Linked DNA regions of Homo sapiens: region 1 is linked to region 2. Evidence: fine-mapped expression QTL. A gene starts in region 2. The other region holds a variant in brackets. All regions are shown on one strand. Distances are from middle to middle. Region 1 holds the start of LINC03061 (long intergenic non-protein coding RNA 3061). Region 2 holds the start of MYO16-AS1 (MYO16 antisense RNA 1).

Region 1 (16,220 bases), 98 kb before region 2:
GTCAAACTCAGGAACAAGCCCCAAGGTTCAAGTTTTACTGAAAGACTTTTACCATAGTGCTTTTTTGACATAGAAAAGAAAAACAGAACAATAAAAAAAAGAAAGTCAACAATTTTTTCAGTGAAGAGACTCACAGAGATTGAAGGTTCTCCGAAAACATTCAGGCCAATGCATCATTTTACATATGAGAAAACTGAAGTCCAGAGGTGACAAAATTTGACAAATCTACATAGCTAAAATGAAACCAAACAGACTCGTAATCCTACTTGGTGCTGGAGGGAGGCTGCAATCTGGGGAACTTGTTATCCAGACATCCCAGCTGGTAGAGTGTGCTACTACATAGATAAAGTCACTGTGGTTAGTGTCTAGCCTCAGCTTTAAAGTTCTGGAAAATCAAATTTGTCAATATTCCCATGGTTATTTAGAGTTAGGGGAACTAATATAAATTCCAAAATATAAATTTATAAAAGAAAATATTGTGACTTTTCTTGTTCTCTATGTAGAACATGCCCATAATCTTCCATAATCATCCTTATGACATGCAGCATCCTTACAATGACTGAGAAGTGGTAAATTTGGAAGCTTCTTAGGTGAGTGTCGAGAGGGCCGAGGAACAGAATAGTCTCGGGACATCTAGTCATCCCAATTTTACAATTGAGCTATAGGCTGATAATACCACTGTCTCTGTTCTCTAAATAAGCATGGCAAAATTGTGGTTTTCTGAATGTCGTTCATCAATAATCCAAGCTGGCTTTTTCACAGTTAGTGTCTAGATAAGGTTCAACAACATACATGTGGTTTCTCATGGTTGTATTTTATTTACATTCTATTCCCCCTTTCAGACCAATCAATCACCTTGATTGAAGTTCTGACTGTGGTCTTGCTAAGAATTCTTCTGGAATATGATCCCTTTTGCTTGTCTCTTCAGCTTGCTTGGCAACTTTCTACCCACTTTCCTCAAAATTCCGAGACATCAGACTCACCTCCAGTTCATCTCCAGTTCATGTGACAGCTGCTGTCCCTGCTGGTGAAGTGGCTGTGCTGTCTGGGGTATACACCCTGGGGTTCATCGTCACACACCAAGAATTCAGGACACAATCACATGTGGGTGGGTTAGGGAGTGGAAAATTTAATAGATAGAAGAAAGGAGAGAGGAGAGCAGCTCTTAGAGAGAGAGAGAGAGAGAGACATCTGAAAAGTGGGGAGGCAGTGGACCAAAACAGATATAATAAGTTGGAGAAGGCGGTGTCTGATTTACATAGGGCTCACAGACTGGTTCCATCAGGTATGACGTCTACATAGTGTGCGGGGGAAGGCTGGTTGCCCCACCCTAATCTAATTATGCAAATAGGCTTTCCAGTTGATCAGAGCCATCTTCTCTGCTCCTTACAATACACTTGGCTGGCAGGGAAGGGAAGATGGAGCCACCAGTTTGAAAATGTCTAGTCCTTAGTTCCTGCTGGCATTCACCTATGCAAGCTCCCAGCTTGCAGGCTGCTCTTTGTTAGAAAATGACTTGGGGCTGCTTTTCATTAAAAAGAAAAGCCTTACCCAGGACTCCCATGCCCTTGCTATCTGCCTAAGCAATTCCTTCTTAACTCCTATATCCCTGGGGAGATGGTAGGAGTGCTGCCCCTGTCTCCTTGCTTGAGAGGGGAACTGCCCCAGGGAACCACCGCCATCTTTCTCTATTGCCTGTGTGACTGCAGCATGGTGAGGTTCTAAGTCCCTGTACCCCTTTTGACTAAGGATGTTTTCCTTCTTCCCCATGATTTTGCTGGAGAATGAGAGGCAGAATTAAAACGTGCTGCATTTGTATTCAGATGTAAAGTTTGTGTCTCTGCAGAAAGCATTGCTTGTGTAGAGAAGGAAAGCATATTGTTTTAGTCCACAGGGGAGCTAGAAATGTGATCAGTCATCAGAATAAGGCAGATGTGTGCTAAATATTTCAGTCACTTATTAGCAGATAATTTATTGGCTTATTATCAAATGTAGCAAATATTTGCCATGTCTGCTTTGGGTTACTTTTTTTGGGAAGCCTTAGGCCGATTTTTGGCAACAGGGATTGAAAACATTTTACCACTTCCCTTACTGAAAAGGCCTTGTTGCCTGGGTGGGTGCCCAAGTCGTTGGTCTCACAGCTGAGGAAATCGACGATGCAGACACACCAAGGACGAGGTCAGAGCAGAAGCAGAAGTTTAACAGGTGAAAGAAAGAGAACAGTTCTCTGCTGCAGAGAGGGGTCCCAGAAAGGGTTGCCGTCCCACAGTAAAATGAAAGGGTTTTTTTCATGCGCGTCCGTGTGAAGAGACACCAAACAGGCTTTGTGTGAGCAACATGGCTGTTTATTTCACCTGGGGGCAGGCGGGCTGAGTCCGAAAAGAGAGTCAGCGAAGGGAGATAGGGGTGGGGCCGTTTTATAGGATTTGGGAAGGTAATGGAAAATTACAGTCAAAGGGGGTTGTTCTCTGGTGGGCAGGGGCGGGGGTCACAAGGTGCTCAGTGGGGGAGCTTCTGAGCCAGGAGAAGGAAATTCACAGGGTTAATCACTCAGTTAAGGTGGGGCAAGAACAAATCACCATGGTGGAATGTCATCAGTTAAGGCGGGGCAGGGCCTTTTCAGTTCTTTTGTGATTCTTCAGTTACTTCAGGCCATCTGGGCGTATACGTGCAAGTCACAGGGGATGCGATGGCTTGGCTTGGGCTCAGAGGCCTGACATTCCTGCCTTCTTATATTAATAAGAAAAATAAAACAAAATTGTGTTGAAGTGTTGGGGCGGTGAAAATTTTTGGGGGGTGGTATGGAGAGAGAATGGGCGATGTTTCTCAGGGCTGCTTCAAGCGGGATTAGGGGCGGCGTGGGAACCTAGAGTGGGAGAGATTAAGCTGAAGGGAGGTCTTGTGGTAAGGGGTGACATTGAGGGGGTTGTTAGAAGAAACATTTGTCATACAGAAAGATTGGTGATGGCCTGGATACGGTTTTGTATGAACTGAAAAACTAAATGGAATAAGAGAAGGAGAAAAACAGGTATAAAAGGACTAAGAATTGGGAGGATCTAGGACATCTAATTAGAGAATGCCTAAGGAGGTTCAGCATAGTCCTTCCAGCGAAGATTATTTATTTACTTCAAGAGTTAAGAGTGGCAGTTTGGGGATAGCATGAGGAGATATCAGCCATGATGGCTTGGAGAAACAGTGTAAACTGGCAGTGTAAACAAGAGCAGGGCATGTATGAGTAGTTGAGAACGGAGAATAGGAGTATGACTAGACGGAAAATAGTAGGGATGACAAGTTTTTTTGGGGGCACAGTCTAAGTTGGTCTGGTGTCTGGGATGAGACTGGGGCCTAATAAAAAGGAGCTTAAATGGACTGTACCTTGTAGCATTCTGAGGACAGGTCTGACTTCTGAGAAGGGAAAGTGGTAAAAGTATTGTCCAGTTCTTTTTAAGTTGGTGGCTGAGCTTGGTGAGGTGTGTTTTTAAAAGACCTTTAGTCCGTTCTACTTTTCTTGAAGACAGAGGACTATAAGGGATATAAACTGAAAAACTGCTTGGCTAATTTGACTAATAAAGCCTGGTCTGTTATCAGACTGTATAGAGGTGGGAAGGCTAAACTGAGGAATTATGTCTGACAGAAGGGAAGAAATGACTGCGGTGGCCTTCTCAGACCCTGTAGGAAAGGCCTCTACCTATCTAGTGAAAATGTCTACTTAGACTAAGAGGTATTTTAGTTTTTGTGACTCGGGGCATGTGGAGTAAAGCTAATTTGCCAGTCCTGGGCGGGGGCAAATCCTCGAGCTTGATGTGTAGGGAAGGGAGGGGCCTGAATGATCCTTGAGGAGTAGCAGAATAGCAGATAGAATAGCAGATGGAACACTGAGAAGTTATTTCCTTGAGGATAGATTTCTACAATGGAAAGGAAATGAGAGGTTCTAAGAGATGGGCTAGTGGCTTGTAATATGGGGAAATGGGGTGAATGTCAGGTGGATCAGAGAGATGCAGTCATGGGGATCAGGTGTGGTATCAGGAATAATGTGGGAGGCCAGATTGAAGTCTGGGCCAGGAACAATGGTAATTGTGGGACTTAACAAAGAATGAGTACAGCTGAAGGAGCCGGGGAGCAGAAAGTATATGCGTCAGGTATGAGGAAGAAAATAGATTTTGGAAGTTATGAGAAATGTAGAGAGTGAGTTGAACATAGTTTGTGATTTTTAGGGCCTCTAAAATTATTAAAGCAGCGGCAGCTGCTGCATGCAGACATGAGGGCTAGGCTAAAACAGTAAGGTCAAGTTGTTTGGACAGAAAGGCTACAGGGTGGGGTCCTGGCTCTTGTGTAAGAATTCTGACCGCACTAACCATGCCTAGGAAGGAAAGGAGTTGTTGTTTTGTAAGGGATTGAGGTTTGGGAGATTAATCAGACACCATCAGCAGGGAGAGCACCTGTGTTTTTGTGAAGAATTATGCCGAGGTAGGTAACGGATGGAGAAGAAATTTGAGCTTTGGAGGGGGATACCCGATATCCTTTGGAGAATAAATGCTGAAGGAGCAGAAGTATGTCTTGTTGAGAAGATTCAAAGGAGGGGCTACAAAGAAGAAGGTCATCAATATATTGAATAAGGTGAGAAGTGGAGGGGTGGAAAGAAAGTAGATCATGAGAAAGAGCTTGGCTGAAGTAATGAGGGCTGTCCCTGGAACCTTGCGGCAGCACAGCCCAGGTAAGCTGCTGAGCCTAATGGGTGTCAGGGTCAGTCTAAGTGAAGGCAAAGAGAGGCTGAGATGAAGAGTGCAAAGGAATAGTAAAGAAAGCATGTTTGAGATCCAGAACAGAATAATGGGTAGTAGAGGGAGGTATTGAGGATAGGAGAGTATATGGGTTTGGCACCACGGGGTGGATAGGCAAAACAATTTGGTTGATAAGGCACAGATTCTGAACTAAGTTGTAAGCCTTGTCTGGTTTTAGGACAGGTAAAACGGGGGAATTGTAAGGAGAGTTTATAGGCTTTAAAAGGCCATGCTGTAGCAGGTGAGTGATAACAGGCTTTAATCCTTTCAAAGCATGCTGTGGGATGGGATATTGGCATTGAGTCGGGTAAGCGTGATTAGGTTTTAATGAGATGGTAAGGGGTGCATGATCGGTCGCCAAGGAGGGAGTAGAGGTATCTTATACTTGTGGGTTAAGGTGGGGGAATACAAGAGGAGGACGCAAAGGAGGCTTTGGATTGGGAAGAAGGGCAGCAATGAGATGCAGCTGTAGTCCAGGAATAGTCAGGGAAGCAGATAATTTGGTTAAAATATCTCGGCCTGATAAGGGAACTGGGCAGGTGGAGATAACTAAAAAAGAGTGCATAAAAGAGTGTTGTTCAAGTTGGCACCAGAGTTGGGGAGTTTTAAGAGGTTTAGAAGCCTGGCTGTCAATACCCACAACAGTTATGGAGGCAAGGGAAACAGGCCCTTGAAAAGAAGGTAATGTGGAGTGGGTAGCCTCCATATTGATTAAGAAGGGGACAGACTTACCCTCCACTGTGAGAGTTACCTAAAGCTCGGTGTCCATGGTGGTCTACAGGGCTTCTGAGGCGATCAGGCAGCGTCAGTCTTCAGCCACTAAGCCAAGAAGGAGTCAGTCAGAGAGCCTTGGGCCAGAGTTCCAGGGGCGCTGGGAGTGGCTGCCAGGTGAGTTGAACAGTCCGATTTCCAGTGGGGTCCCGCACAGATGGGACATGGCTTAGGAGGAATCCCTGGGCTGCAGGCATTCCTTGCCCTGGTGGTCAGATTTCTGGCACTTGCAGCAAGCTCCTGGGGGAGGAGGTTCTGGAGGAATGTCTGGCCACTGCGGTTCAGGCATTTGGAAGTTGTTGTGTGCTGGAGATGTGGCTGGGGTTTGTCTCACAGTGGAGGCAAGGAATTGCAACTTCCTTTTTTTTATTATTGTACACCTTGAAGGTGAGGTTAATTAAGTCCTGTTGTGGGGTTTGAGGGCCAGATTCTAATTTTTGGAGTTTTATTTAATGTCGGGAGCAGATTGGGTAATAAAATGTGTATTGAGAATAAGATGGCCTTTTGACCTTTTAGGGTCTAGGGCTGTAAAGCATCTCAGGGTTGCTGCCGAACGAGACATGAACTGGGCTGGGTTTTTATATTTGATGAAAAAGAGCCTAAACGCTTCTGATTTGGGATAAAGAAAAAGGAGCATTAACCTTGACTATGCCTTTGGCTCCAGCCACCTTTTTAAGAGTAAATTGCTGGGCAGGTGGGGGAGGGCTAGTCACAGAACGAAACTGTAAGCCAGACCAGGTGTGAGGAGGGGAGGCGATAAAAAGATTACAGGGTGGAGGAGCGGAGGCTGAGGAAGAATTGGGACCTAGCTTGGCCTGGCAAGGAGGGGAGAGGTCAGATGGGTCTGTAGAAAAGGAAGATTAGAAAGACTCAGTGACGCTTGGGGTTGGGACTGAGGGGACAGGCG[G/A]GAGGGAAAGAAGGAAGATTCAGAATGAGTTGCACTGGGCACAGAGACTAGGAAGGGACTGATGTGTAAAAGAATGCCTGGATGTCAGGCACCTCAGACCATTTGCCCATTTTATGACAAGAATTATTTAGATCTTGTAGGATGGAAAAATTGAAAGTGCCGTTTTCCGGCTATTTGGAACTACTGTAGAGTTTGTATTGGGGTCAAGAGGCATTGCAGAAGAAAATGAGACACTTAGATTTTAGGTCAGGTGAGAGTTGAAGAGGTTTTAAGTTCTTAAGAATACAGGCTAAGGGAGAAGAAGGAGGAATGGAAGGTGGAAGCTTGCCCATAGTGAAGGAGGCAAGCCCAGAGAAAAGAGTAGAGACACGGAGAAGGGGTGGGGGTTTCTTGCCCTCCAGAAAAGCAGAGAAAGGGTTGGGGCACAGAAATAAGGGATTGGGGCACAGAGATAAGAGGTCAGGGTGTGGAAATAAGGGATTGGGGGTTCTTGCCCCCTAGAAAAGTGGGAAGGGGGGTTGGGGCATGGAAATAAGGGATTGGGGCACAGAGATAAGAGGTTGGGGTGTGGAAATAAGGGATTGGGTCACAGAAATAAGAGGTCGGGGTGTGGAAATAAGGGATTGGGGGTTCTTGCCCCCTAGAAAAGCGGGACTTGCCACTAAGGGTGAAGGAGAAGGGGTTGAGGGGTACTTTCCCCTCCCCCAGAAAAGTGGGACTTGCCACTAAGGGTGAAGGAGAAGGGGTTGAGGGGTTCTTGCCCCTGCCCCAGAAAATCAGAGAAGGGGTAGAGACAAGAAGAGAAGGGGTTGGGGTACTTGCCCCTTCCCCAGAAAAGCAGGGAAGGGGTAGAGACACAGAGAGAAGGGGTTGGGGTACTTGCCCCTTCCCCAGAAAAGCAGAGAACGGGTAGAGACACAGAGAGAAGGGGTTGGGGTACTTTCCCCTTCCCCAGAAAAGCGGGACTTGCCGCTAAGGGTGAAGGACCAAGGCAGGCATCCCTGCATGGTCTGACACCCTTGAAACGTGGGTGAATAATCAGAGAGGTGTCCCTGCAATGATTAAACAGCAAGGGAAGGCTGCCTTCCCAGTCCGTGACCAGCGCTGGAGTTTTGGGTCCACAGATAAAACGTGTCTCCTTTGTCTCTACCAGAAAATGAAAGGAATTGAAACTAAGAGAAGGGAGAGATTGAAGTGTGGCGCCAAGATTGAAAGGAGAAAGAGGTTGAGGGATAGTGAGGGAGGTTGGAGAAGAGAGTAAAAAGAGGCGGCTTACTGGATTTAAAATTGGTGAGATGTTTCTTGGGCTGGTTGGTCTGAGGACCTAAGGTCGTAGGTGGATCTTTCTCATGGAGCAAAGAGCAGGAGGACGGGGGATTGATCTCCTAAGGGAGGTCCCCCGATCCGAGCCACGGCATCAAAGTTCACTCGAGTCCATGTGAAGAGACACCAAACAGGCTTTGTGTGAGCAACATGGCTGTTTATTTCACCTGGGGGCAGGCGGGCTGAGTCCGAAAAGAGAGTCAGCGAAGGGAGATGGGGTGGGGCCGTTTTATAGGATTTGGGAAGGTAATGGAAAATTACAGTCAAAGGGGGTTGTTCTCTGGTGGGCAGGGGCGGGGGTCACAAGGTGCTCAGTGGGGGAGCTGCTGAGCCAGGAGAAGGAAATTCACAGGGTTAATCACTCAGTTAAGGTGGGGCAAGAACAAATCACCATGGTGGAATGTCATCAGTTAAGGCGGGGCAGGGCCTTTTCAGTTCTTTTGTGATTCTTCAGTTACTTCAGGCCATCTGGGCGTATACGTGCAAGTCACAGGGGATGCGATGGCTTGGCTTGGGCTCAGAGGCCTGACAGTTTTTATAAGTGACCTAGTGGGGAGGCAGTATTTTACCTACATAGGGTGTGAAAAAACAGTTAAGACCAGGTGTACCATCAGCATAGAGTGCGAATCTCTGGCAGCCCCCATCCCAGCCTTTTATTATGGAGGCGGGTCCTTTGCCTGAGCTACTCCATGTTGCTTTCCTACTGTGCAGGTGCAAAAAAAAGAAAAAGAAAAAAAAAAGTGGGAGGCGGAGCCCTCATGGTGCACATGACTGGCCCCAGGTACCCCTTTCTAGTGCGGCAGCTCCCAGCTGCAAGCTTCCAGCTTCCTTATCTATGTTTGCAGCACAATCTTCCAGGCTGCTCTTTGTTAGGAGACACGTGTTTTCTTGGGCTGCTTTTTGTGAGAAAGGAAGTTCTACTGAGGAATTTTGACCTAGCTATCTGCCTAGCTATTCTCTTTTTACTTCCTCGCTCACTATGGGGTCCAGCCAAATCCAGTGGCATTGGGAATGGAAAGGAAGCAAGAATGGCAGATTATGTGGGAAGGTTTCCAATCAGCTAATTGGACTTAAGGGACAAGGGAGAAGTCAAAATAATGATGGAAATGATGGCCAAGGGAAGGGTCTTATTGTTAAAGAAAGCTCTGGGAAGGGAGATAATAGGTGTTTATAGCTATTTCCTGAGCAATCTCTGTTAGCAGGAAAATTCTCTGAAGCCATGTGAAGGGAGGCAGTTGCCAGTGAGGGGAGTTGGTGAGAAATGCCAAAGCCCCCTGGATTAGATGAAGAAATTGTATTCTCCACAAGTTATCTTTGAAAGATGACTTAGTGTACATGATTGGGAATTATATCTTGATAAGCCCCTTGGTTGGTTCTGGGAGTGATTCCTTCAAGGGGAACGCTTGGGAAATAATATATAATAGTTAAATATTCTGGTAACTTCATGGGCTTTATTCAGCTGAGTGGGCATATGAGTGTGGGGATATCAAGGGTTTAGGACAATAAGGTGATCAAAGCACTGACTCGGTGGTCTTTTAATTCCTCCATTCTGTTCTTCCCTGTTCAGTGCTTAGCTTCTCTTAATATACATTTCACAAATATATTTATTCTGAGGAACTAAATTATTAGCCTGACTAGGTGTTCAAATGTTTCCATATAGGCCTTTCTGTTCCTTTATCTGGGATTACAGGCATGAGCCACAACACACAGCTTAACCCCTGTGTGACTATCTAGTCCATAGAACTTCAGAAAGTACAACCAAATAGGGTGAAAGTTCAAGTCTTGCGTCCTCTATAATCCTATCTTGCACCCTGTCCCTCACCAAATATTTTGAAGCAAATCCCAGACATCATATCATTTCCTCCATAAATATTTCAATATACATCTCTGAAAGTTTAGACCTCTTTCAAAAGGTTAATTTCCATATGATTATCATACTTAAAAATTAAAAATTATTCCTTAGGCAGGGCACAGTGGCTCATGCCTGTAATCCCAGCACTTTGGGAGGCCAAGGCAGGTGGATCATGAGGTCAGGCATTTGAGACCAGCCTGGCCAACATAATGATACCCCACTCTACTAAAAATACAAAAAATTAGCCAGGTGTGGTGGTGGGTGCCTGTAATTCCCGTTACTAGGGAGGCTGAGGCAAGAGAATCGCTTGGACCAGGAAGGCAGAGGTTGCAGTGAGCTGAGATCTTGCCACTGCATGACAGTCTGGGCGACAGTGCAAGACTCTGTCTCAAAAAAAAAAAAAAAATTATTACTTAATACTATTTTTTTTTAAAGTTGAAGTCTTGCTTTGTTGCCCAAGTTAGAGTGCAGTGGGGGCACTCTTGGCTCACTGCAACCTCTGCTTCCCAGGTTCAAGTGATTCTCCTGTCTCAGCCTCCCAAGTAGATAGGATTATAGGTGTGCACCACACGGTTGGCTAATTTTTGTATTTTTGGTAGAAATGGGGTTTCACTATGTTGCTCAGGCTGGTTTTGAACTCCTGACCTCAAGTGATCCGCCTGCCTTGGCCTCCCAAAATGCTGCGATTACAGGCATGAACCACTAAGCCCAGCCCCTTAATACTATTACATATCTACTAAGTGTTCTAATTTTCCTGATTCTCTTTTCTTCTTTTACAATTTGCCTGACTCAGAAGTCCCAAAGAGATCTATACCTTGCAGTTGATTGATTTATCTTTTAAACCTCTTTTTTTTTTTTTTTTTTGAGATGGAGTCTCGCTCTGTTGCCCAGGCTGGAGTGCAGTGGCGCGATCTTGGCTCACTGCAAGCTCCACCTCCCGGGTTCACACCATTCTCCTGCCTCAGCCTCCCAAGTAGCTGGGACTACAGGTGCCTGCCACCACACCTGGCTAATTTTTTGTATTTTTAGTAGAGATGAGTTTTCACCATGTTAGCCAGGATGGTCTCGATCTCCTGAACTTGTGATCCACCTGCCTCTGCCTCCCAAAGTGCTGTGATTACAGGCATGAGCCACCGTGCCTGGCCTAAACCTCTTTTAAGATATAGAACTTGTTGGCTTTTTCCTTGCATTTTATTGGTCGAAGAAACAGGTTGTTTGTCCTAAAGAAATTTTTACAGTCCAGATTGTGTTGTGTAATTCCTTTGAAACCTGAATTTCTTATAAACTAGTAAACCTAAACTTTTAGTAGGATTTGGGTTTTATTTACTGTATTTTACTCTGTATTCAAAAATACTTGTAGGCAGAATTATATTTGTTATTAGGAGGTGTACATTGTCTAGCCATCTCTTTTCTTTGTAAAGGTAGATGACTAATCTGACTAAATACATAAAAAAAAGAGAGTTACAAAATGGTGATGTCTTAATGTGATCATTTCTTTTAAATTTATTGTCTGTAGTGTATCTACAAACAATGCCTTTCCATTGTATATTATATGTTTACTTTGAGGTAGAATTATTATAGGAAAAGCAATGTAAGTTCTTGGTTATATCCTCTTATCCACTAGTTTTCAAAACAATAAATTGTTTTCCTTTCACTCTCTGAAGATGATCACTGAAATTTGACTTAAGTATTTGATATGGTTTGGCTCTGTGTCACCAACCAAATCTTATCTTGAATTATAATAATCCCCACACATTGTGGGAGTGACCTTGTGGGAGTTAATTGAATCTTGGGGGCAAGTTTTTCCCATGCTCTTCTAGTGATAGTAAGTCTCATGACATCTGATGGTTTTATAAAGGGGAGTTCCCCTGCACATGCCCTCTTGCCTGCCACCAGGTAAGACGTGCCTTTGCTTCTCCTTTGCCTTCTGCCATGATTGTGAGGCCTTCTCAGCCATGTGCAACTGTGAGTCCATTAAACCTCTCTTCTTTATAAATAACCTCATCTTGGGTATGTCTTTATTAGGAGCATGAGAACAGACTATTACAGTATTATTATAAACACATGAATTTACATGCTTAATGTAATTTATTTCATTTGTTAATCTTATTTGTGGCCAAATTTGCCCTCCATTGGCTAATGAAAAACTCTTGAATGTGGCTGTTGAATTATTTGCTCACGATTTCAATAGACTTTGTTAGCTTCTTACTGTCTGGGAAGAACAGACATTTCAGACTCATCTTTAACATTTTCTTTCTCAAGCTGAAAGCAATTATTTCACCAAGGAATTCTGGTTCCTTGCAGTGGGAAATCATATTTAGAGACCATGATCTTTGTGCTAGAGGTGCTAATTGCTACCGAGTTAGTCACTGTTTCTAGACTTTTCTAGAGGACAAAGCTAAGAAACACACACGCACATGCCCACACACAATGTATTCATAAAGATGATATACAATGTGAATTCATATTGATTACTAATTTTAAATACAATTTAAGACTACAGGTTATTATTCATCTCATCAACCTTACATCCGTATCTCATTCCTTTCATGGTGAAAACGCCAATCCTCAATGATAATAGTTCATTTGATTTATCTCACGATAATTACTCATTACATACAGAAAATAATGACATATTCTCAGAATAGTTATATCACTTCTGTCACAAATAATGTGATTATTGAAAAGAGTTGAAGATTGTTCTTCAGGTCTTTAGTATCTAACCCAATAGGGGGTATAGTAAATCAATATTCTTTAAAGTTACTTGAAATTTTTGTCTTTTTGTGAATATGCTACTAACCTGATAAACAGGTTCATTATTTTTTATTTGCTTTTGATTTTAAGAATGGCCTTTGTAATTTTAATTTTATTTAATATAATGTTAAGCATTTACATGAGTTATTTGTCAAATGTACAAAACAATGTATACTCAGGGAAGACTTGCTTCTATTCCTTTCTCTTGTATGTATTTAACCCTCTGTAGGTACAAATTTTTTAAGTTATTAAAATAAAACATGTTTTCTGTAGATATATATGTATATATACACACATACTCTTCTTAGTTAAATATTCTACACATTGAAGCTTCTAGAAGTATTCATCTTTTATTTGTACAGCTCTATAGTACTCTGTTGTGAGGACATAGCATAGTTTATTGAAATATTGGAAAACATTGTTCTTGCACCCTTTCTATTAGTCATAATGCTGCAAGGAATATAGTTGCACACCTCTATTTTTCATATTTTTGCCATGTACTTTTAGGATAGATCTCTGGAAATGAGATTGCTGGGTCAAAGATAAATGCTTAAGTCATCCTGTTACACATTTCCAAATTCCCTTTTTATAAGATAAGGTCATTTTGTATTTCTATCAATGTATGAGATTGTCTGTTTTTCTCCAGCTATTTTGCTTTAGTTTCCTCTTATTTTGCTAGTGTAGAGGAGGAATATGGCATCACAAAATTAGGGAGAATAAGTATCACAATATGTTGAATTGAGAAAACTTCTCATTCTAACAGAACCTATAAATCCTCAATTGTCTCTTGAGAAGAAGACAATACGTGCAGAAAGCATCACTAAAGATTTTAACTTTTTCATCGTCAGACTCTGAAAGTCACTCGTTAGAAGTCTGATCTAGCAATATCTCACGTGATTAATTAGTAATCTGGTATCAGCCAGTAAAGGCAAAAGCTACTTGCCTTCACTTACAAAATATGTCTTGCAGGTAAAAACATTTTAGTTATTTTGTATGCTAAGTCTGAATTCATTTTTTCTCATGTATGTTGTTAAGATGCCTGGAACAGTCATTTGTTGAGGTTATGTTTGGCCAGGTAGAGCTATTCATTTATTTTAAGATGTGTTTCTGAAGTATGGCTGTCATCTGATTGGTGTACCTACTCAAATTTCTCATAATGCAAACTGTTCCTTCCTGGTTGGCATTCCTCAAAGTTCACAAAATGACAACCAATTTCGCAAAAGGGTCATGTTCTAGATTCAAGTAGGACACATTCCACTAGAAAACAAAGTAAATTGTTTTTAAAGGAGGCTTGATAAAGAAATAAAATTTCCAGGTAATATGACATACAAGTGTTATATTCACATAACATTACACTTTTAAGCATTTGGAAAATGGAGACTGGTTCTTCCAGTCATTCATTCATTTATTTGTTATTTATTTATTTATTCAGCAAGTATTTTTTTAAGTATTTTTAAGTCCCAGTTATGGGCCAGTGTTATGGGAATTGTGTTAACTGAAGATACAAGACTAACCAAAGTAGACACAGTTATTAGCCACATAGAGTCAAACATTAAGAAATACTATTGAGATTAAGTCATAAATAACAAAATAGCAATAATTTGGATGAAGATCTCTGCACAAGTCACTGTTCAGTCTACCTCTGTCCCTTTGTTGAAGAGTTGCTTATATGTGCTGGCTCATTACTTTCTTTCATTTATGCCTAAATCCACTCAAAATTCTTTTCCTAAGATCTCCAGTGGGCTTCTGGTTCTGGCTAAAATGTAGTAACTGGTACTGAACTAGTCCTCCGGACATAAAGAGCTAGAGAAACTGAAAAAGAAATGGTTTTTAGACATTAAACAAAAGGCAGCATAGGAATATAATCCATGGCAGGAAAAAACTAATGTGGTGGGCCCTGGATGCCTTGGCTTTCTGCCTGGATAGTGCTTCTGGACCAAGGCCCCTGAAGAGGCAGCCTAAGCAGAACTTGGAGTCTCACTGAGATGAGGTGATAGAGATCAAAGTTCAGAAAGACTGAGAATAAAGGTACTTGCACAGGAAATGCACAGTTGAAATTTTTGGGGCAGGGTACTAGAGAGGAAGGGCCAAGCAGAGAAGGAGCTTCAGAATCTACTCAGAGTTTTCCCTGAGTCTTTGTCTGAATAGTAACCTGAACTTGTGTAGGGTACAGAACAACTATCAAGAAAAGATAACTGTCATGGAACTACAAACACAAACCACTGGAGCTCATGTAGAGCTGGGAGACATTTGGGCTCCAGCTAGCCTGAATGGAAAGACCAGGGCATTCAGTAGAGGCTCCACAAAGGCCACATCTTAAGTGCAGGGCTCACCTAGCCCCAGAGCAAAAGCTATTCTAAACCTTCTCTAACAAAGCTTAAAAACATCCTAAGAAAGACTGTAAAGGTCAAACATCCTCAAAGAGATTAATCTCCTTCCAGAACAAAGTACAGAGTATTTTAAAGGAAGACAGGAATCCAGACATTGAACAACAGTGGTGATGTCAAATATCCAATTAAAATTACTAGACATGTGGGGAAGCAAGCAAATGTGACCCTACCAAGAAAAAAAATCAGTTGATAGAAACAGAGCAGTGACTTTCTAGTTACCAAAGCTAATGATTTTAATTTAGTTGTGATCATCCTATTTGATCCATTTGGGAGGTACTTTGCTGATGATTACTCTTCCCCTCTCTTGGCATCTGTAACACAGAACATCCCTAGTTCCCTGACATTTCTACAAACCCACCTTCTCACTTCTTTATTGGCTCTTGTGTCTGCCTTATTTCTTTTTTTCTTTTTTTGAGATGAAGTCTCATTCTGTCACCCAGGCTGGAGTGCGGTGGTGTGATCTCGGCTCACTGCAAGCTCCACCTCCTGGGTTCACACCATTCTCCTGCCTCAGCTTCCTGAGTAGCCAGGACTACAGGTGCCTGCCACCACGCCTGGCTAATTTTTTGTATTTTTAGTAGAGATGGGGTTTCACTGTGTTAGCCAGGTTGGTCTCGATCTCCTGAACCTCATGATCCACCCACCTCGGCCTCCCAAAGTGCTGGGGTTACAGGTGTGACCCACTGCGCCCGGCCGTCTGCCTTATTTCTAAGTATTAGTGTTCCTCATGGCTTTTCTTTTCTTTTACTTCTTTCTGACTTATATTACAAGTTCTCTGAAGAGTCTCATTTATTCCCATGACTTGAATTAAACATTTTCTTTTTATAAGTTTTTGCTTGTATAATAAAAATATTTTAGTAATTATTATGGTTATTGTGTCCATATGCATTACACTTTATCAAATATTGTTATAGACTTTCTTTTGATTCCTGTGCAACCTGTGTGTGATGAAAAATTCAGGAACTCTTACTACTATTTTTAACAAAAAAGAAAAAAAAAGTTTAGCAAGATGAAGGTACTTGTCCAAGGTCACCTGTCTGGGAAGTGGTTTGGCATGGTCTAGAATCTGGGATTTCTGACTCTTAGTGCCAATGCTGTCACCAAATCTGCAGTTTTCTACAATGTGTCCTTTGTAATCCACAAGGATTGAATACACTGTGGATTATCACATATTCAATAATCATGATAACTGCTGTGAAAAAATTGTCTGAGGTTCTTATTTAATTTTGAAATAGAAACGTCTCCTTGTTGGGCAGTGATGTGTAGATGAGTTTCTTTGAATAATGTCTTTAAATGGACCGAGGCAAATTCTGTCAGGTGATTCATGCCTCACATTGACATTCCAAAGAGTCAGATTGCACAATGTGCTTTTGACTTTCTCCCTCTGAGCAATTTGAACTATTTGTGCTCACATGTCCTATCATGGAGCTAGCTGCCAGTGT
Region 2 (8,000 bases):
TTTGTTTGATAAAGCTAAAATGTTCTAACACTAAAAACTGCTCTCTAATCTAATGATAAATAACCACAAGTCCAGGGAATAATTAAATATACAAAAAAAAGATCCAAGTCTGCGCTCGCATCAGTAAAAGGATGGCAATTAAAGTAAGTGATAGCTATAATTACGCACACATAACTATATTTCAACAAATGAACAAACAGATAATTATTTCTGGGAAGCAGAGGTAGCATGCAGATACTGGCATTCAAAAGAGAAATGTTTCCTAGAAAATAACACTGTTTCTGATTCAATTAGAACTTTAAGTTATTTTAAACATTTATTTTCATCTTGTGCCCTTATTTAGAAAGTGCATTGGCTGCACTTTGTAAGTTATGAACCTGTACTAATAATTGCTTTAAGAGTTATCATGCTCATGTATACATCACATTCTGCACATGTGTAATGTTTGTTCAATTTCTATAATACTGACGAGGCAGTTTTTCTGACTCTGCCCTCTGTATGGGATTTACTGGTTCCTCCGTAACAAACAACATTGTTTCAATCAGCAAATGCTTACTCAGGGCCTAAGTATAAAGGGTATTGTGCTGGATGTTTTAAAAATCATGGGGAAAGTTCCAGGCCCCCAGAAATTCATGGCGCTCACAAGAGTAGATCAGCATAAATGTGTCAAGTTGCTTTGAAAGATTGAATTTCCAATTGAAATAATTTTCCTTTTGCACGCATAACTCTTGAGATTTTCAAGTGGTTTTTACTTAATGACAGCATAGAACCAACTTTATTTTAAAAATTGTAAGTGTGTTAAGGGAGAACACAGAAATCTGTGTTGCAGGCTTTGGCCGTACACACTATGTGTTACATGCTGAAGTTTAGAACCCTGATACTCCTAAAGAATTTATATTATTAATTTCATGGATCCTATTTCACAAACATCTCCATTTTGGTCTAGAGGGTTTCTGCTTGTTTCCTTGGTTTTTGGTTATGTTTTGATATTTAGAGTATGACTTGCCGTTTTTATTATTATTATTATTAAGTTTTTTAGGATCATTTCCGAAGCTGTAGTTTTTGCCTTTTGCCTCAAAACACAGAAAACTTAAATATTTTGGTGAAGAGAAGTTCCCTTTCTCCATCTCTTTCTTCCTCCTTTTTTTTTTAAATTGCAGAATTGTAACAACCACACAAATAAAATAAAGAAATAGAACACTGGCAGCTCTGCGGAAGCTCCTGTAGTCATCTCTCCAAATCGCTACTGGCCTTCCCCTCCAAATGAAATTGCCATCCTCACTTTGTGGCAGTCCGTTCTCCGAGCACCTCTTCCTTTTCAGGCGGGTCTGTAATTCTAGAGTGTGTGTAGTAGTATTGCCCTGGAGTCTTCAGTTACATTTCTCTAGTTACTAATGAGGTTGGACTCCATTAAAATTGTTTTTCTAAGTGGTATTCACATATTCTGTCCAATTTTCTTTTCAGCTGTCTTTTGTTTTTAATTTAAATAAACGTTGAATATTAGCCTTTGTTGGGTAAATGTGTTAAAAATATTTTCTCCCTATTTATGTTTTTTTTTTTCTTTTTTCTTTATGGTTAAAACTTTTGTGTCTTGCTTAACAAGCCCTTCTTTCCTTTTATGAAGTAAGAAAGATACTCTCCTATTGTTTCTTCTATCCATTTTATGATTTGACATTTGACATACAGATCTATAATCTATCAGGAATTGTTGTGTGTATAGCATTAGGCAGAGTCGAGTTTCACTGTTTGCTCCACATGGATAGCAATCAATTATTCTTCCCCAGTGCTCTCACATGCCAATTTTGTCATAAATTAAGTGGCTAATTATGCAAGCTGGAGTAATATTATTTTCTTTCTCCTTCCTTCCTATTCTCTGAAAGCGTGTACGTGACATTGGAGTTATTTAATCCTTAGAATTTTGGAAACATTTAGTGGAGAAACCATCTGATTCTGGAATTTTCCTTGTAGGAAGGCATTCAATTACAAATTCCATTAATTTAACATTTACGGTGTTATTTAGCTTTCCTACTTCTTTTGTCCATTTTCGTTAGTTCTTTTTTTTTTAAGAATGTATTTGTTTATGTAAATTTGTAAATTTATCTTGGTGTAAAACTGTTTGTAATATTCTCTTACTATTTTTAATTTCAGCCAGATCTGTATTGATGTCCCCTTTTCAATCTAAAATCTGTTATTTGTGCCAATTTTCTCTATTTCTCTATCCCCTTGCAAGAAAATTTTCAATCTTATTGTTTTCAAAGATAATTTTTTAAAAGATAAACAACTTTCTCTTTCCTTCCTTTCTATCCCTTCACATTATTTTATTTGTTTTATATTTCAATAACTTATGTTCTTATTATCACTATCATATCTTTCCTTCCATTTTCATAGTATTTAGTTTTTGTTCTGTTTCTAATTTCTAGACCCTTTTAACACTCATCGTATTTGTTCTCTTGTGATGCAAAGGTTTGAAGCCATACATTTCCATTTCTTAAGAGATCTTTTGCAGTAACATGGATGGAACTGGAGGCCATTATCTTAGGTGAAATAACTAAGACACAGAAAGAAAAATGCTACATGTTCTCACTTATAAGTGGGAGCTAAATAACGTGTACACTTGGGCACAGAGTGTGGAATAATAGACACTGGAGACTCAGAAGGGTGGCAAGGTGGGAGGATGGGATGGAATGAAGCATATGAAACGACTTAATCAGGACAATATATACTATTCAGTTGATGTGGACACTAAAAGCCCAGCCATGGCCACGATGCCATACAGCCACATATTGACCATACCGACACTGTACCCGAGCCCCTTCCACTCATACACAAAAGACATTAGACATGTCCTAAAAGTTCTGTTGTCATATTTGCATTGTCATTAGTTAAAATATTTTGCTTTTTAATTTATTTTGTGATTTCTTCTTGAATACATTGATTACTTAGAGATTTTATTTTATCTTATTTTTTTAGACAAAGTCTGGCTCTGTCACCCAGGCTGGAGTGCAGTGGCGCGATCAGGGCTCACTGCAAACTCCGCCTCCTGGGTTCAAGCAATTCTCCTACCTCAGCTTTCCGAGTCGCCGGGATTAAAGGCATATACCACCAAGCCCAGCTGATTTTTGTATTTTTAGTAGAGATGGGGGTTTCACCATGTTGGCCAGGCTGGTCTCGAACTCCTGACCTCAGGTGATCTGCCTGCCTCGGCCTCCCAAAGTGCTGGGATTGCAGGCGTGAGCCACCGCGCCTGGCCTAGAGATGTAATTTTTGACGTTCAAATATATGAGCACTGTTTTTGCTGCTTTTTAATATTTGCACATTGTATCTTTTTCTTTTCTATCCCTTTACATTTACTCTTTCAGAATCCTTATGTTTTACTGTTTTCAGAAAACTTAGTTTTTAAAATATTCTGCTAATCATTTTTCATATAAGTTTACATTAAATAAGCCTTTTAAAGTTTATTATAATTAAATAAAGTTTATTTTCACATGTGTTTTCATATCTACTGTCTCAGAACTTTCTCCTTGCCCTATTTTTCCTATTTTATCCCCTTTTTGCATCTTTTGAGTTGACTTTTTATGATTTTATTTTTCTCTCTTTACTAGTTTGGATATTATCTACCCCACTAATATTCTTTCAGGGGTTACCTTTGAGGTTACAACTGGCAAGGTAGGTTTATCAGTGTATAATATTAAATATTATTTTACCCCTCCAAATTTTACTGCCTTTTTAGTTATTCTTTATTCTTTCCTTTATCTCTAAGCATTCTGAGTCTGTCAGTGTTTAATTCCTTTCATTTTTATTTTTTTTCCTAAAAATATCCTTAACTCCCTTTCATTATTACAGGAATTTTTGGGGGGCAGTTATTTTATTTGAGCATGTTAACTATGTTATTTCATTGTCTTTGGACTTCAGTTGCTACTTTTCGAAGATAGTACATATTTTTACCTCTAACTGCTTTTAAAATTAATTCTCGGTCTTTATTTTATAGGTGTTTTACTATGATACACCTAGGAAAGTTTTATGTATCCTACTTAGGCTTTGCAAAGGTTTCTGTTTCATTTTTACAAACGTTGGATTGATTATGGTGTAATTTAGAGACAGTGAGATTCACCTTTTTTAGACATACACATCTGTGCATCTGCAGACATGAGCACTCCAGGTTGTCTATAACACCACATGTCCTTCTGAACTTCATCTCCTGCCATTACGCCCAGCCTCCAGCAACCACTCAGCTGTTTTCTGTCTCCAGCTTTGCTTTTCCCCAAATGTTACATAAGCAGGATCACACTTAGTCTTTTGATTTTTTTTTTTTAACCTCAACACAATGCTTTAGCCATCCCTTTTTTTTATGATGCTCATTATAGTTGATCACTCTTATTTATTGCAGGCTTCATCCATGTGCTAGTTCAGCCTGTGAGATGCTGGTGAGCCCACCTCCAGGCACTCACGGACTCCCCACCCATTGAGTGTGGCCTGGATTTAGTGACTCAATCAAACGTGACAGAGTGCTGGGGTGTCATTTTCAAGACTGGGTTATGTGAAGACTGCAGCCTCCATCTGGGGTGCTCTCTCTTGGATTGCTTGCTCAGGGATGTGGGGAGAGCTGCTGTGCTGGGAGGCTGCCCATGTGAGTTGACTTGGATGTGAACCTTCTGTGGCCTGCCAATAGCCACGTGAGTGACCTTGAAAATGGATCAGCCTTCACTCAAGTCTCAAGATGACTGTGGTCTTGGCTGACAGCTTGATTGCTGTCTCATGGGGGACCTTAAACCAAAGGCACCCTGCTAAGCCACACACAGCTTCCTGGCCCACAGAAACTATGAAATAATAACCATTTCTTATATAAGCCTCCAAGTTTTGGGAGTAATATTTTGCACAGTGATGGATCACTAATACAAGCCAGTCATCAGTTGAAAGACACTGAATTTATTTCCAGTTTTATGTGATTATGAATAATGTCACCATATGCATTTGCATACAGGTGTTTGTGTGGACACTGCTGTCATTTCTCTTGGGAAGATACTGAGGAGTCAGATTGCTGGATCCCGTGAAGAATGTATGTTGAATGTTATAAAAATCTGCCAACTTAAATCTGTTTCCTGGTGCTCTTTCGTCAGCATTGGGAGATGCTCTAACATTTCTCACCAAGTCTTTCTTCTGCTCATGCGCTCCCTCTTCTTTCCCTAAGACTTCAATCATCCTCCTCATTGCCCTTTATATCTCTAAACCATTGTCTGGAGTTTCCATTCTTCCCTTTTGCTTCAATCTGTTTCATTCTGGGGATTTTCTGAGTTATCTTCCACTTCTCCAGTTATTTTTTATTTGTTTTGTTTTTAAACAACTATATCTAATTAAATTTAACTTTATCCTCTGTTGTACTCAATTTTATTACTGCATTTTCCAATTTCAGAATTTCCATTTGACGATTTCCTTATAGTTTCCTATTTCTGCTGAAATTCTCGTTGTTTTATTTCGTGGGGGGCTGAGTAAACATACTTATTTTAAGGCATGTGTCTTTGAATTCCAACCTTTTGAATCCCTGTGGACATATTGCAATTGGCTGCCGTCTCTGCTTTTAATTTTTTATCTTATTTTGTGTGCTCCTATGCCTGGTTATTTCTAACTGTGTTGGACTTTGCATTTGAAAAATGGTTTCTATGAATGTTTTGAAGCCTAGGATGCTATTACTGCCCTTTGGGGAAAATGTACACGTGTTTCTCCCAGGTACCTGTAGGCCTGGTTACATCTGGGCAACTCAACATGGTTCTTGGTTCTGGTTCACTCTGACTCTTGGGAAGAACACTTGAAGGCCCCACCCCAAGGCCTTGGTGGGGCCACGACTCAGTTTCTTGCCCTGTAATTTGAGAAGGCAGTCAGAAGCACAACTTGACTTCTTAGCTGCCTTCTCTGAACAATGTGGGTACCCTTATGTCCCCATGAGCCAAGCTTCAAGTGTGGGCTTCCTTGCTTCGGCTCACCTTGCACCCCACTCCCAGGTCTTCAACTGCTTCCCAGCATTTCAGCATCATGATGGTTCTCCCACGCCTCTAATTAGACTAAACAAACATGCTTTTCCCAGCCCTGCGGGAGGCCCTCAGGAATAGTTGGTCTGAGTCTTCCCATCAGTTATTCCCAGACGCCTTTGTCTTCTTTTATTTGTGAGAGAAAATACTTGCGTGATCCTCAGCTTTTGTACCTGCAATCAAGCCACTTTCTAAATGTGGCACTCATTGATGTACTTAAAATACCTGAAGCCAGTCTGGCACTTATCATTTCTTTAATATTATTTTCCTTCACATTTCTTAGTTTCCAGAATAATTTTTTAATTAAAAATATTGGTAGAGAATCTATTGCCTTCTTCTGCTCAGTATAAGACTAATTTTGGACCAGTTCTTTTAGATTAACACTCCATAAAATTTCGGAAAAGTCAACAAGGAGTGAATAGAATTCCAATTCTTTAACTGAAGCAATCATATGCTGACAATAATACTTGCAGGGGAGTTTCATGGTTTATATTCTATTTTCCAGTTCTTAACCCTACTTCATTTTCATATTTTAAATCCATTCCTCCCAGAAAGTTGATACAGCCTAAAACTTTTGTACATTTACTTCTGAGTTTAAAAAGTGCTTACCATTTGAGATGGAATTTCCATTTTCAGCAGTTATAGCACTAGATAGTGAATTAGATAACTGAATTCCATGGTTATTTGCATTTCTGTCTTGAGTCTCGGAAGTAATTTCTGACGTACTAGGGTCATCTCGGCTACTTATGTTCATGTTAGTTTCAAAACCTAAAATAAATTTTAGAAAACATAATTATTTTCTGATAACATGTACTGAATATACTGAATAAAACATTTGGAGAAAATAATAAAACATCAAATCAAACATTCATGACATTTAAAATAATAATAATCTTTAATAAAATTTGTAGCCTATATAATATTCACCAAATTTTGCCACAACAATGTCAAACAAAAAGGAAAATGTCAAGTGGTAACAATAATTTGTTGCATTCAAACATATTTATAAAGAATTTTTGATGTCATAGATCAAATAACTTGTCATTATAGTATTGCCTGTCATGAGAAAGCAATGAGTTCATGTTTCAGGAGTTTTCTGAATGATTACATTTAAATAAATTAAGGCAATCTTACAGCTTTGGAAAAAATAAGAAACACTTGAGTGATAAGAAACACTATAGTGATATTTTCAACATCACTATAAACACTTTTAGTGTCCATGTTGGAATACTGAACTTCAATACTCGACTTCCGCATTCTGCACACTAAGATAATTACTTAAATATGTAATGCTTGTCCTATGTTAAGTGTTTTGAGAGGTACGAACACGAAAGCCACTGTCCAAATTCCACTGAAGGGCCTGATGAAGACTTTTTAAAGTGATGTAATATTAATAAAGTGAAACACAGCAAATGCTTCTATTTGGAAAAATGTCCAATGGAGGTAGGTTTCCCCATGGTCACTGCATTACCCTTAGGCACAAAATCAGACTTTGCAAATCAGGCACAACTGCCATCAAGGGGCCAGACATCCCCCCATCACCACCTCTGCCAAGTTCCCTTTCTCTGACTTCACAGGTGCACCTGGGATTGGCTCTTGCTTCCTAAGGAACCTCAAAAAAGCTGCAACCTATTGGAGACTTTTGATTCAGCATCAAGGATATGCGTGAGACTTTGGTTCTTTTCTGTTGGGACACAGTTGATTCTGACTGTCTTAAAGTTAGGCTTTTCTAAAGATTTAGACTAATAAATTATTTGAATGGGACAACACACATCATTTGCTTTATTATACTTTAAATATGGCAGAACGGTGTATTACCACCCCAATCCCAATCACCGGTACCTCCATAGGCAGAGATGTTATCCTTATTTTGCTGAAGAAGGAATTAGGGTTACTCAGAGTCATGCAGTTGGAAAGAGATAGAATGGAACTTTAACCTGTATGTTCTGATTATTATTCAGTCTTTATTTTTCATTA

Evidence for each region. PIP is the estimated chance that this variant, and not a neighbour inherited with it, causes the effect.
Region 1: its variant is fine-mapped to the expression of MYO16-AS1 in whole blood (INTERVAL, PIP above 0.99). The same link has a PIP of 0.9 or more in neutrophils.

The regions. Positions count from the first base shown.
Region 1 is chr13:109,257,183-109,273,402 of GRCh38, reverse strand. It overlaps LINC03061 (long intergenic non-protein coding RNA 3061), which reads right to left and starts at 7,916. Exons shown (of 2, transcript NR_185883.1): 1 at 7,736-7,916; 2 at 2,328-5,792. It overlaps LOC130494219 (a long non-coding RNA gene), which reads right to left and starts at 1,200. Exons shown (of 2, transcript NR_185888.1): 1 at 984-1,200. RefSeq lists enhancers at 1,928-2,656, 5,174-6,132. The variant G/A (reference allele first, on the strand shown) is at 6,460.
Region 2 is chr13:109,163,692-109,171,691 of GRCh38, reverse strand. MYO16-AS1 (MYO16 antisense RNA 1) reads left to right here and starts at 4,389. Exons shown (of 3, transcript NR_047700.1): 1 at 4,389-4,673; 2 at 4,982-5,056; 3 at 7,601-7,787. MYO16 (myosin XVI) reads right to left here. Exons shown (of 35, transcript NM_001198950.3): 33 at 6,633-6,791.